Linked DNA regions of Homo sapiens: region 2 is linked to region 1. Evidence: fine-mapped QTL for protein levels in blood plasma. A gene starts in region 1. The other region holds a variant in brackets. All regions are shown on one strand. Distances are from middle to middle.

Region 1 (5,379 bases):
TAGGATCTGCCTTTGCACTCGTTCAGTTACAGAGCTGTTATGAAATAAACCACTCAAGTGGCCTTGCTTCCCTCCCACTATGCTCTACATAACATGTCTGTCAATCAGTACTTACTACCAAAATAACTTGCCTTTGAGATTTTTCTGTTCTGCAATCTGTCCCATGCTTGTAAGGGGAAGGATTATATTCTGCTCCCTGGGGAGTAGTGCCTGGTGCAAAATTAGCTTCCTCATTAGGGTACAAGCTGAAAACACCATGATACTTTCCATGTAACACCATTCAACATTTTCCCTTCGCTCCCACTCCCCAACCATAGAATTTTAGGGACTCCTTTAACCATTTCAAAACCATCGACTTGGGAGCTATCAAAGAATAAGGACTGTAGCCAGAGGATTTCAGCATTTAAAAACTTGGCAATAGAGCTGTTCAGTGTAATGATCCAAGAAGGTCCTTAGAAGGCTGAATAATTCTGAGGTCAAGGTTGAGACGTTATTATTTTTAAAGTAGCAAGATGTTGTTATTTTTAAATTTTATCTTTATAATGTGGAAATAGCAGAGATCCTTTTCAGATATAACCAGGATTTAAGAAAATTTGACAAAGTTGCATTAATAAAAAGAAAGCCTGTTATTAAGGAGCTACAGGGCCGGGTGCGGTGGCTCATGCCTGTAATCCCAGCACTTTGGGAGGTTGAGGCGGGCGGATCATCTGAGTTCAGGAGTTCAAGACCAGCCTGGCCGACATGGTGAAACCCCATCTCTACTAAAAATACAAAAAAAATTAGCCAGGCATGGTGGCAGGTACCTGTAATCCCAGCTACTTGGGAGGCTGAAGCAAGAGAATCACTTGTACTCGGGAGACGGAGGTTGCAGTGAGCCAAGATCATGCCATTGCACTCCAGCCTGGGCAAGAAGAGTGAAACTCCGTCTCAAAAAAAAAAAGGAGTTATGGATAGAAAATTACTTCCTTTAACTCATTCGACAAATATTTACTGAGCATTTTCTGTCACCTTGACACTTTGCTGATTCTTCTTTTCTATTTCAATAAAAATGTTGGGCAATTATAACCAAGGAAAAGGTTTTAAGAAAGTAAATTTTAAGCAAGGTTTAGATATAAAGAAGCAAAGAGATGGAAAAGGATGCCGTTTCACATTGCAGAAAAAGTTTAAATTTTAGAACCCCAAATTGAATCTCTCCTTGACACTCTCCTCTTGGTATTCCAGGGATTAATGCTAGGAACATCCCAGTGAGCCAACATTTCCCTCCTCATCTTGGATCCAGTCCCCAAACTCTGAATGGTGCCACTTAGCAAGTAGCAATGTCTCTAATTTTCTGTAAAAGATGCAACGTTGGCAATCCATTTTCTAGCAAGAGCAAAGAGAAAGGAAGAGGCCTTCACAAGTTGCAGTTGATATAGGGGGAAGGGTGAGTGGTACATTTAAAGGTAAGAACTAAGGAAGTTGAAGGTAACAAAACTCAAGGTCAATGGAAAGTCTTAAATCCCAGAAAGCCTTCAGTCTAAGACTCAACAGAAATTGAAGTCCCAGAAATTGAAGGAACTGGTTCCACCTCATGCTGGACTGTGGCAAACCTGGGGTGAGAATGCATCCCAGCTCAGAATGTTTCTTCTTTTTTTGTCAAGAGTAATATTAGAGGCTGAGTGTATGAACAAAGCATCTTTCCTGGGATTTTAACATTGTGAGTGATCGAGGGTGCTCTTAAATAAGTTCCCCCAAGAAGCCCTAATGTTCCTCTGGATGCATGATTATACTAAGAGAATAAGAGTTTTCCTTAAGATCAGCTTGCTGATGGACCATATCAAGAACTATAAATTTTCTTATGTGAACACAAGTGTTCAGGGGGGATATTGTTAAAACTGAAACCAAGCATAAAGAAGCAAAAGTGTTTCAGTGAACCTCCTGCATTTTAGTTCAACTCTGGCAGCAAGAAAACAAAACCACATAATCTAAGGCTCACGCCCAACTCTCCGAAGCCCCATATGTGCTAGTTCCTGTGTGGTTTGCCTACAGACTGCAGGGCTGACTAGGGTTAGTTTGGAGGAGGGAGTAAGAGGTGGGGAGGAGGAGGCACAGTTAATGGATCTGTAAACTTGCACCCTCTTTCAGAGTGGTACATGGAAGACAGCACAAAGTGGATCCATACTCTGAAATGCAGTAACTCTGATGCTTGAATTTGTCTCCCTTCTTGCCAGAAAGGATTCTAATAACTCGGTGTCAAAGCCAAGACATAAACTCAACCCCTTCTCTTCCAAAAGGTATGTCATTATACAACATCTGTACATATACTCTAGAAACTTTGAACAGTTTTATAATTTGCAGAATGTTCTGTATGAGTTAATTAAAATGAATCTCACTAGTTCTCTAAATATTGCTTTTAAGTCCCATCAGCTAAGGTCTCTAAACCTTTTGCTGTGACAATGTTTGTGGTGATGGGATTTGACTTCTATCAAATGAACTGGGAGAACACTTGTTCCTTACCCAGTCCATAACACAAAAATCTCCACAAACTGGCTTCAGAAGCATCTCAGGGAAAGATTTTCGACCTTGGGATCATGGAGGTAAAATTCCACTTCACCATGGTCAGAATTTAATCCAAATTGGAAGGGATTGGAGGGGGTGGTAGAGGGCTGAGCAGTGATGAATGAACACTAGCACTCTGAGGTCAGGATTTCTCTCTTTGCTTGAATTTCTAGTTCTGTTCGCATTTTTGTTACCTGTACAAAGGACACCAGTTTTCATTCCTTTACGAAAAGAAAACTTTATGTTGAAGTGTATTTTGGAAGGGTATTGTCTCTCTTCGTACTAGCCGTTAGGCTCCATCCCTATGACTGTCTCTGGTTTAGGCGTCCAGTCTGAAGATAGCTGCTTTGTGTTCTTTGTCCCAACTCTTCCTGAACGTGAGGATTGAACATACCAACCAAAGGTTTCACTAATTTAAAATGTACTGTATTGCCCTGACAGGTATACTGTCAAAAAAAATTTACCGTATTTATCTACCTGGAATTAGGCCTTCTTAATAAAGTGTATGCAGCATAATTTGCACACTATTGAACATACACATCCCTAGATAAACTAGGAGTGGGAAGTGTTTTAGATCTAAACATCCAATGGGAAAAATTTCGTGTGTTCTCGTTATGTTATCTGAGGATGGGAAACTTCAGGTCGCAGAATCTTTTGTTCTATGCAGCAATGTTTGTCATAAACGGTTTAGTTCTTTAGTGGCTCCTTTTTGTTTCTTATTTTTGGTTTCGGAAAGAGTATTTAGCAGAAGTTACTCTCCTTTAACAATCCAGTATTTTATGTAAAACTTTATAGAATAATTTTATAGTGATTCTCTTTACAAAACCATCTGCTATTAAATAAGGAACACTGTGTAAATAGAGGACCACCTAAGTATATTTAATTTTCAAATACGAAAAAAATCTGACTCATACCCTTTTTTGTTTTTTTGTAAAAGAGAGGTGGCCCTATATTATTGAATAAAACTGCTTTTTTAGATTGAACTTGGAGTGTCTCCCATGTGGTAAACTGAAATCTTATTCTCCCCAAATTGTAATAGATTTTATCTTTTTAAAAATGACTTTACTGAAGCAGAGGAGAAGGAGATGATCAATCTATTCAATATGAAGAAATATCTCTGTTGCTAATACAATATCCTTTTGAATATCTCCCACATCTTAGGCCCTGGTGAAAATCCCTTTCAATTGTTCTGTCTACCTCGTAGGGATGTTGTAAGAATAAATGAGTTAACATAGATATGAAGTGCCTTAGGAAAAAGGCTCTATAAAAATGCAAGGCGATATCATGATTAGTTGTTTCTTTGACTCTTGATCATTTTCTTCCCACTTCTTATACAAAATGTCTCTCACTTATTTCCTGAAGCCATCTCTTTTAGAACTATTGCTTCCTAGAAGAGCTGAAAATGATCCTAGTTCCAACATATTTATTGATTCCCAGATAATAACACCCACTGGTGTTGATGACTGACAGGGTTCATGCCTAAGCTTGAGTAGAACTTGCCCTTTTTTCCTGGGTCAAGAAAAGTCTGCAATTGTTCGAAAATGTGTCAGTAAGTGTGATTCCATCACGATTTCTTAAATAAGTAACAGTTGCTGCTGGATAATCCTGGGGGCAGATGATTCATTTTTGTGCCCCTATCAAACAAACTCAAAACTTGTTAAAGAATCTTTATAAGTTGTTTGAATCAAACAATAGGGTCGCTAGGTCCCCATTTTGTCCATTTGAGGTATTTGCCCAGCATACCTTGGTCTGTAAAGAAATAGCACAGCCTTGGCTGGGCGCGGTGGCTCATGCTTATAATCCTAGCACTTTGGGAGGCCGAGGTGGGCAGATCTCCAAAAATAAATAATAATAATGATAATAACACAGCCTCATGAGTCTTTTTTTTTTTTTTTTTTTTGAGACAGGGTCTCACTCTGTCACTCAGGCTGGAGTACAGTGGCACAATCACAGCTCACTGCAGCCTCAACTACCCTGGGTTTAGTGATCCTCCCACCTCAGCCTCTCAAGTAGCTGAGACTACAGGTACACACCACCACACCTGGCTAATATTGTATTTTTAGTAGAGACAGGGTTTTGCCATGTTTCCCAGGCTGGTCTTGAACTCCTGAACTCAAGCGATTCGCCTGCCTCAGCCTCCCAAAGTGTTGGGATTACAGGTGTGAACCACTACACCTGGCCTGCCCTTTCTTTTCTCTTAAAAATTCTTAAGAAAGCATGGTCCTGTTTAACAAATAAGCATTTTACAAACATTTATCGATCAATTACTATATGCCAGGCCTGGCACTAGGCACCAAGTCCTCTTCAACAGTGTTAACATTAAGTTTCAATAAACTTGAGTCAGTAGGAATTCAGTAAATAATTTTTAAAGATTGTTTTCTTTTTAAATATGTATTTATAAACAAAAATTTTAGAGAATTAAAAGAAACTATCACGAAGTGCATGATGATAAAAGTCTTATATACTCTCCAAAGAAAATGTTAAGACATACCTTAAGGAGATAGTGAAGAACAGCCGGGCACAGTGGCTCACACCTGTAATCCCAGCACTTGGGCGGCCAAAGCAGGCAGATCATCTGAGGTCAGGAGTTGGAGACAAGCCTGGCCAACATGTTGAAACCCTGTCTCTACCAAAATACAAAAATTAGCCGGGCATGATGGCAGGCGCCTGTAATCCCAGCTACTTGGGAGACTGAGGCACGAGAATTGCTTGAACCCGGGAGGCAGATGTTTCAGCGAGCTGAGATCGTGCCACTGCACTCCAGCCTGGTCGACAGAGCAAGATCCTGTCTCAAAAAGAGGAAAAAAGAAAAGAAAAGAAAAGATAGTGAGAAAATAACTG
Region 2 (5,379 bases), 45 kb after region 1:
CTGTTGCACTCCGCCCCCCACAACTCTGTCTAAATTGTTGCTACCCAGTTTATATCTGCATCATATTTTTTGTTGTTGTTTCTCCAATGCAGTATGTAGTGGTGGCAGGTACAGATCATAAAACAAATGGATAATCAGATTCCTTTTTCCCTGGTGGTAATTTTTAAACTTTTCAAAATTAATGCTAATGGATATAGAGGAATGGGATATACATTTCCATGCATTTTTATGACCAAACAGAAAACCGACCCCTGAGGGTGACATATTTACTATTCTCTACTACTAGGGGTGCTTCAAGGGAAGAGTTTTTGAAGCCCTGTGGTTTAAACAAAAAGAGAACATACCCCACCCCACCCTGAACAAACAGCAGCTGGGCAGATTTCATCTCACAAATGGAAATGGGAGCAAACAAATTTTTTCAAAGCGATTTTATAAAGAGTGGGCCTGTTTAGTTGGGTTTTTTGAGCCAGGATTAATATTACAAGCTGGGGAGCTCTGTGACATGGCTGTGTCGTTGGCTTTGCCATACCGCCTACCTCCTGGGGGAAGGCAGAGGAAAGTGCTGCTATTCAGAAGCAATTTTACTTCTGCCTCGGCCTTCTCACTTCTCACTGAAGTGATTTACAGCCAGCCTGGACCCAGTGCCCAAGCCTGAGCTGAGTTACATGTCATGTTGGAAAGATCTTCCCCAAATCAAGGTCTTATCTAGAGCTTGCCTGGGATATTTTTTCATTTCTAATTTATGTAACTTTCTAATATGTTTAGCATTTGCCCTTCCCTTGTCTCCATCCTGCTTATTAAGGTGAATTTGCATACAAATGGGACCTTGGTCTTCAGGACCATTCACCTGACACTTGATCCCACGAGGCGACCACTGTCTACTGTTGATACCATGAGGATGACCCACAGAAGTCATGTCTCTCTGCAAACTAGAGGCAAGGCCTTAATTAGAAGAAGCCTTGTGTGTTAAAATGATGGGGTGAATCAAATCAGCAAAGGCATTTAGCATTAACTTAGGAGGGCAGAATACTCCTTCCTGTTGAGTGGGTCGTCCTAGGTCACAACAATTTTAATTTGCCTTCGATAGATGGATCTTGAAGAAAGTGTACAAAAAGTATATTTGTGATGGTGTTGTTTGGGAGTACGTTTTGACTCAAAGAGTTAACTGTGACATTTTACTTTGGCTCCTGGTCTATTTTTTGCTTAACATCTACCTTTGAATGGGTAATAGTCATCTCTATAAATTACCTTCGAAAGATTGAACAATTGTGGAGAATCAGAGAAATGAGCCCCTTGCTATCACCCTGTTGCAGTCGGCTTTAATCCTCTGATCTCCTGGCGTTTCACCCTCTCACTGGCAGCCACCTTCCTTATTTACCCAAATCTTGTTAACTTGGGTAGGAATTCCCACTGAGAGGACAAATGTGGTCCCAGTTGACTGGTCGCTGAAAGTCTATTAGGTTGGAGAGTATTTATTTTCTACCCTAAAGGGTTTGAAACTTAGGGAAATTTTGATCAACAAGAAAATAACAGCTTTCAAGATTGTCCTGACAGTTAAGCTGTCTTAGCAGAGAATCACAGGATTTGATAGTCATGGAGATTAGTTCTCAAATTTCAATGAGAAAAGTTCATAGGAGATGGAGTGAGGAAAGAAAACTTGTGCTGATTTTGGTCAGGCTACCTTTGCTGGGGAAAAATTCATTCCATAAAATTATTTTAAAACGTAAATACTATTTAGCTTTATCTGGTGTAATACTTTGCATCTATAATTTTTTTGTTTTGTTTTGTTTTTGAGACAGAGTCTTGCTCTGTCACCCAGGCTGGAGTACAGTGGCATGATCTTGGCTCACTGCAACCTCTGCCTCCCAGGTTCAAGCGATTATCCTGCCTCAGCCTCCCAAGTAGCTGGGATTACAGGCACGTGCCACGGCACCCAGCTAATTTTTGTATTTTTAGTAGAGACAGGGTTTTGCCATGTTGGCCAGGATGGTCTTGAACTCCTGACCTCAGGTGATCTGCCCGCCTCGACCTCCCAAAGTGCTGGGATTACAGGCATGAGCCACAGCGCCCGGCCTGCATCTATAATTTGATTTAACCTTGCAACTTTATTAATTGAATATTATGATCACCATTTTATAGATGAGGAAATGGAGACTCCAAGGGTTTAATTACTTGCCCAAGAGTCTACAGCTATCTACCAACAAAACTGGGATTGGAGCCAGCTGTCTTACCATTACATCCCCGCTGCCTCCTAAAGCACAGCTCTAGTTCATACTAAATGTATTACATAGGCCGACTCATTTATCTTTACATGGGTCTCATGCATTACAAGAAGGGGGCCACTATTTTAACTCAATTCAAAAATGTTAAAATCAAAATTCCCAAAATGTACTTGGTTTATAATATATCATAAAATAAGTAATCTGACCAATTGAGCCTCCCAACTCGAAGACCAAGAACTTCTTTCTACTCCCAAACCATGCAGAAGGAAGCTGAGTTCCCCACTGGCCAATGCTGTCTAATTCTCTTAAATGATTCAGATGTAAAAGAGGAAATGGCATCCGTCTAATTAACACTGCCTGGTTAAATATAGCTGCCAAGGGACAGCCTTGGGACAGTGTTTACAGAATAGTCTTTCCAGCCCCTCAGGCCTCAAGTTACAGATGATAGCAAGCCTTCCCTCCTTATCAGCTGCAAACAGAGATGCCCCCAAAAGTGGTGTCAGGCCAGGATGATGAAAGGAGAAGGGAAAGGCTGCGGATGGCCTTCATTTCCTGCTCCTGGCATCTGGGGATTCCGAGAATGATCCCAGGACCTAGATCCTATAGATTCCGGCAGCTCTTCCTGCAAACACAAGCCCTTGTTGTGTGCCTGAGCCTTGCTCTCCGGCCTGGAGACATCC[A/G]TCTGCCCACTCTCCTAGGAACTGCTGATTACCAGGAAGCACCATCGGCTCTGCTGCCCTCCCCCTGGCAGAGAGGCACAATGACCACATTATTTCTCTTCCAGCTTCACGTTACAGCATGGAAGCTGTTGCCAAGTTTGATTTCACTGCTTCAGGTGAGGATGAACTGAGCTTTCACACTGGAGATGTTTTGAAGGTAGGTGACCTGGGGCCCCAGGGGAGCAGTAGGGAGTTTCAGTTACTCAGTAATCTGACAGTCCCTGCCTTTGTCTCTTAAGAACTGCATGTGGTTCCTTTTAAAAAGAGAAGTTCACCTTGATTCCCTTTGTGCACCCTTATACCAGACACCAACCAGGCCGGGTGATGGAAATACAGTCGGCATAAGCCACCATCCTTGTCCTGGGAGGTTCGTAGTCTGGAGAGGGGAACACATCCACCCAAAGGGCTGTTACAGATGTTCTTGGCTAAGTTCTCAGGGAGCACAGGTGAGGGAACAAGTGATTCCATCTTGAAAGATGGGGGTTGTAGGAGTGTGTGCAATGTGAACGTCAGGAATGCACTGAAGGTGACTTGGGCTTTTAGCTAAAGCTCAGAGATGTGCAAGCCCATGCTGAATGCAGGGAGCAGCGCCAGGCTCAGCAGAGCTGGAACTCAGGAGGAGAGGTTGTGGGTGGAGACAGCTTGGGAAAGGCAGCCACAGAGGACATGGCTCAACAAAGGCCATGCACACCTGGCCACTCAGGGGCTTTTTAAAGCTTGTCCTCATCCTGCACTTGAGTTGTAGTGGCCACTTGCTGAGCTGAAGTGGCCTTGGACTTCTCCCACATTCATGCACCATACTTTCAGACTCTGCATCTTAGCCCTTGGGTTTTTGTTTTGTTTTGTTTGTTTGCAAAAGAGCATAAGCCCTTCAAAAGGGCATTTGGGAGTGTGTGGAGCCAGACCCCCTCTGCCTGACCTCAGAGCACCCTCAGATAGCCTGATCCCTGGTCCTCAGATAGCCTGATCCCTGGTCCTCAGATAGCCTGATCCCTGGTCCTCAGCAGTCCCAATGAGCCTTCTCGGACGCCCAGCAACACTGAGGCCATTAGTGTCTCACCACCGAGAATTAGGTTTGTTATACAAAGAACCTTGTCAGCATGTGAGAGGGTGACATTGAAAGTGTCTGAGGAGCACAAAACACCACAGAATGGCTTCTTTTGGAATATGAACATGCCCATTAGGTAGCCTTCTAACTGCTCTCAACTTTCAAGATCTAGTAACATAGTGGCAAAGCATAGGCCTTCACAAACTTAAAATATGAGTTGGGCCTCCTGACCCAGGAAAACCTGTCTGTCACTGCTTTGGGGTCTTACGAAGCTCCTGGAGGGACTTGCCAAGCAGCGAGAAGTTCCTGCCTTCTCTGTGGGGCACTGTGATCATGTGACTGTCATCCACTGGAGACCATCCTTGTACCAACTTCCACCCTCGTCTTCCATTACAAAGAGAACCTGGTATCTTAAGTTTTCTCTATTCCTCAGAAAAGGAAAAAGGAAAGAAAAAAAAAAAAAACTTTGCTCAACTCTGCTTCCCAATCCAGCTCCTGATTTCTTTCCTCCCCTTTGTTGCTAATACTGGGAAGAATTCTCTACACTGGGCGTGCTTCACTTCCTCACTTCCCACTCATTCCACAACTCTCTGGAATCTGCCTTTTACCCTCCCTGCAACATTCTCTTGAAGTTCACCAGTGATCTCCTTAATGTGTAGTATAATGACCCTATGGAAATGTCTGTGGGATTGACACTGCTAACTGGCCCTCTCCTGGAAGCCCCTTTCTCCCTGGCTTTGGCAGCACCACCCTCTCCGGGTTCTTCTCCTCCCTTCCTGACCACTCCTACAGGTCTCATTTCCAAGCATTCTTTTTCCTCTCTTGATCCTGAAATATACACTTCCCTGAAGGTGCTGCCTTTGGCTTTCTGATTTTTCTTCTCACTCTGAGCCACCTCATCCACTTCTTCAGCTGCAACTATCACCTCTGTGCCAAAGACCCTCAAGTCTGTGGCTCGTGTTCTAGCTCTGGCCTTGCTCTTGAACTCCAGACCCAGACTTCCAATTGTCTGCTGGATGTCCCCACATGAACTCCAGCCCCTAACTCAGGATGCCGAGAATCACTCAAACCCCCATGCCCATCTCACCCCCATTTCCACCCAAGCCACTCTTCTTTCCATGTTCTAATTATTATCCTAGGTCAGTCACAAGCTAGAAGCCCCAATTATCATCAATGCCTCCTTTACCAAATCCTGGTGACCAGTAACCAACGTCTCCTGAGCTCCTGTTCAGGGCCAGGATCTAGCTAAGTGGTTTGCAGGCATGATTTCATCATCTCAGCAAACCTGTGAGGTAGGCATTCATTTCCCCTCCATTTCATAGATGAGAAACTGAGGCTAGGGATTAAATCACATGTCCACAGTCACACAGCTAGCATGTGACCAATCCAG

Alleles and levels. Alleles are on the strand shown, and positions count from the first base shown. The strength of an association depends on the size of the effect and on how common the allele is.
For the plasma level of the protein whose gene starts at base 2,027 in region 1, A is the low allele of the variant in region 2 and G is the other (weak association).

What was found. PIP is the chance, under the fine-mapping model, that this variant and not a neighbour inherited with it causes the effect. The UK Biobank Pharma Proteomics Project read protein levels with antibody pairs (Olink). The fine-mapping took linkage between variants from a reference panel, not from the people measured, so its PIPs are less certain.
Region 2: its variant is fine-mapped to the plasma level of the GRAP2 protein (UK Biobank, PIP above 0.99).

What each region holds. Positions count from the first base shown.
Region 1 is chr22:39,899,058-39,904,436 of GRCh38, forward strand. GRAP2 (GRB2 related adaptor protein 2) reads left to right here and starts at 2,027. Exons shown (of 8, transcript NM_004810.4): 1 at 2,027-2,273.
Region 2 is chr22:39,944,087-39,949,465 of GRCh38, forward strand. GRAP2 (GRB2 related adaptor protein 2) reads left to right here. Exons shown (of 8, transcript NM_004810.4): 2 at 3,007-3,098. The coding sequence starts at 3,021. Among named protein-coding and RNA genes, the nearest start is that of TMA7B, 14 kb to the right of the region's middle. The variant A/G (reference allele first, on the strand shown) is at 2,903.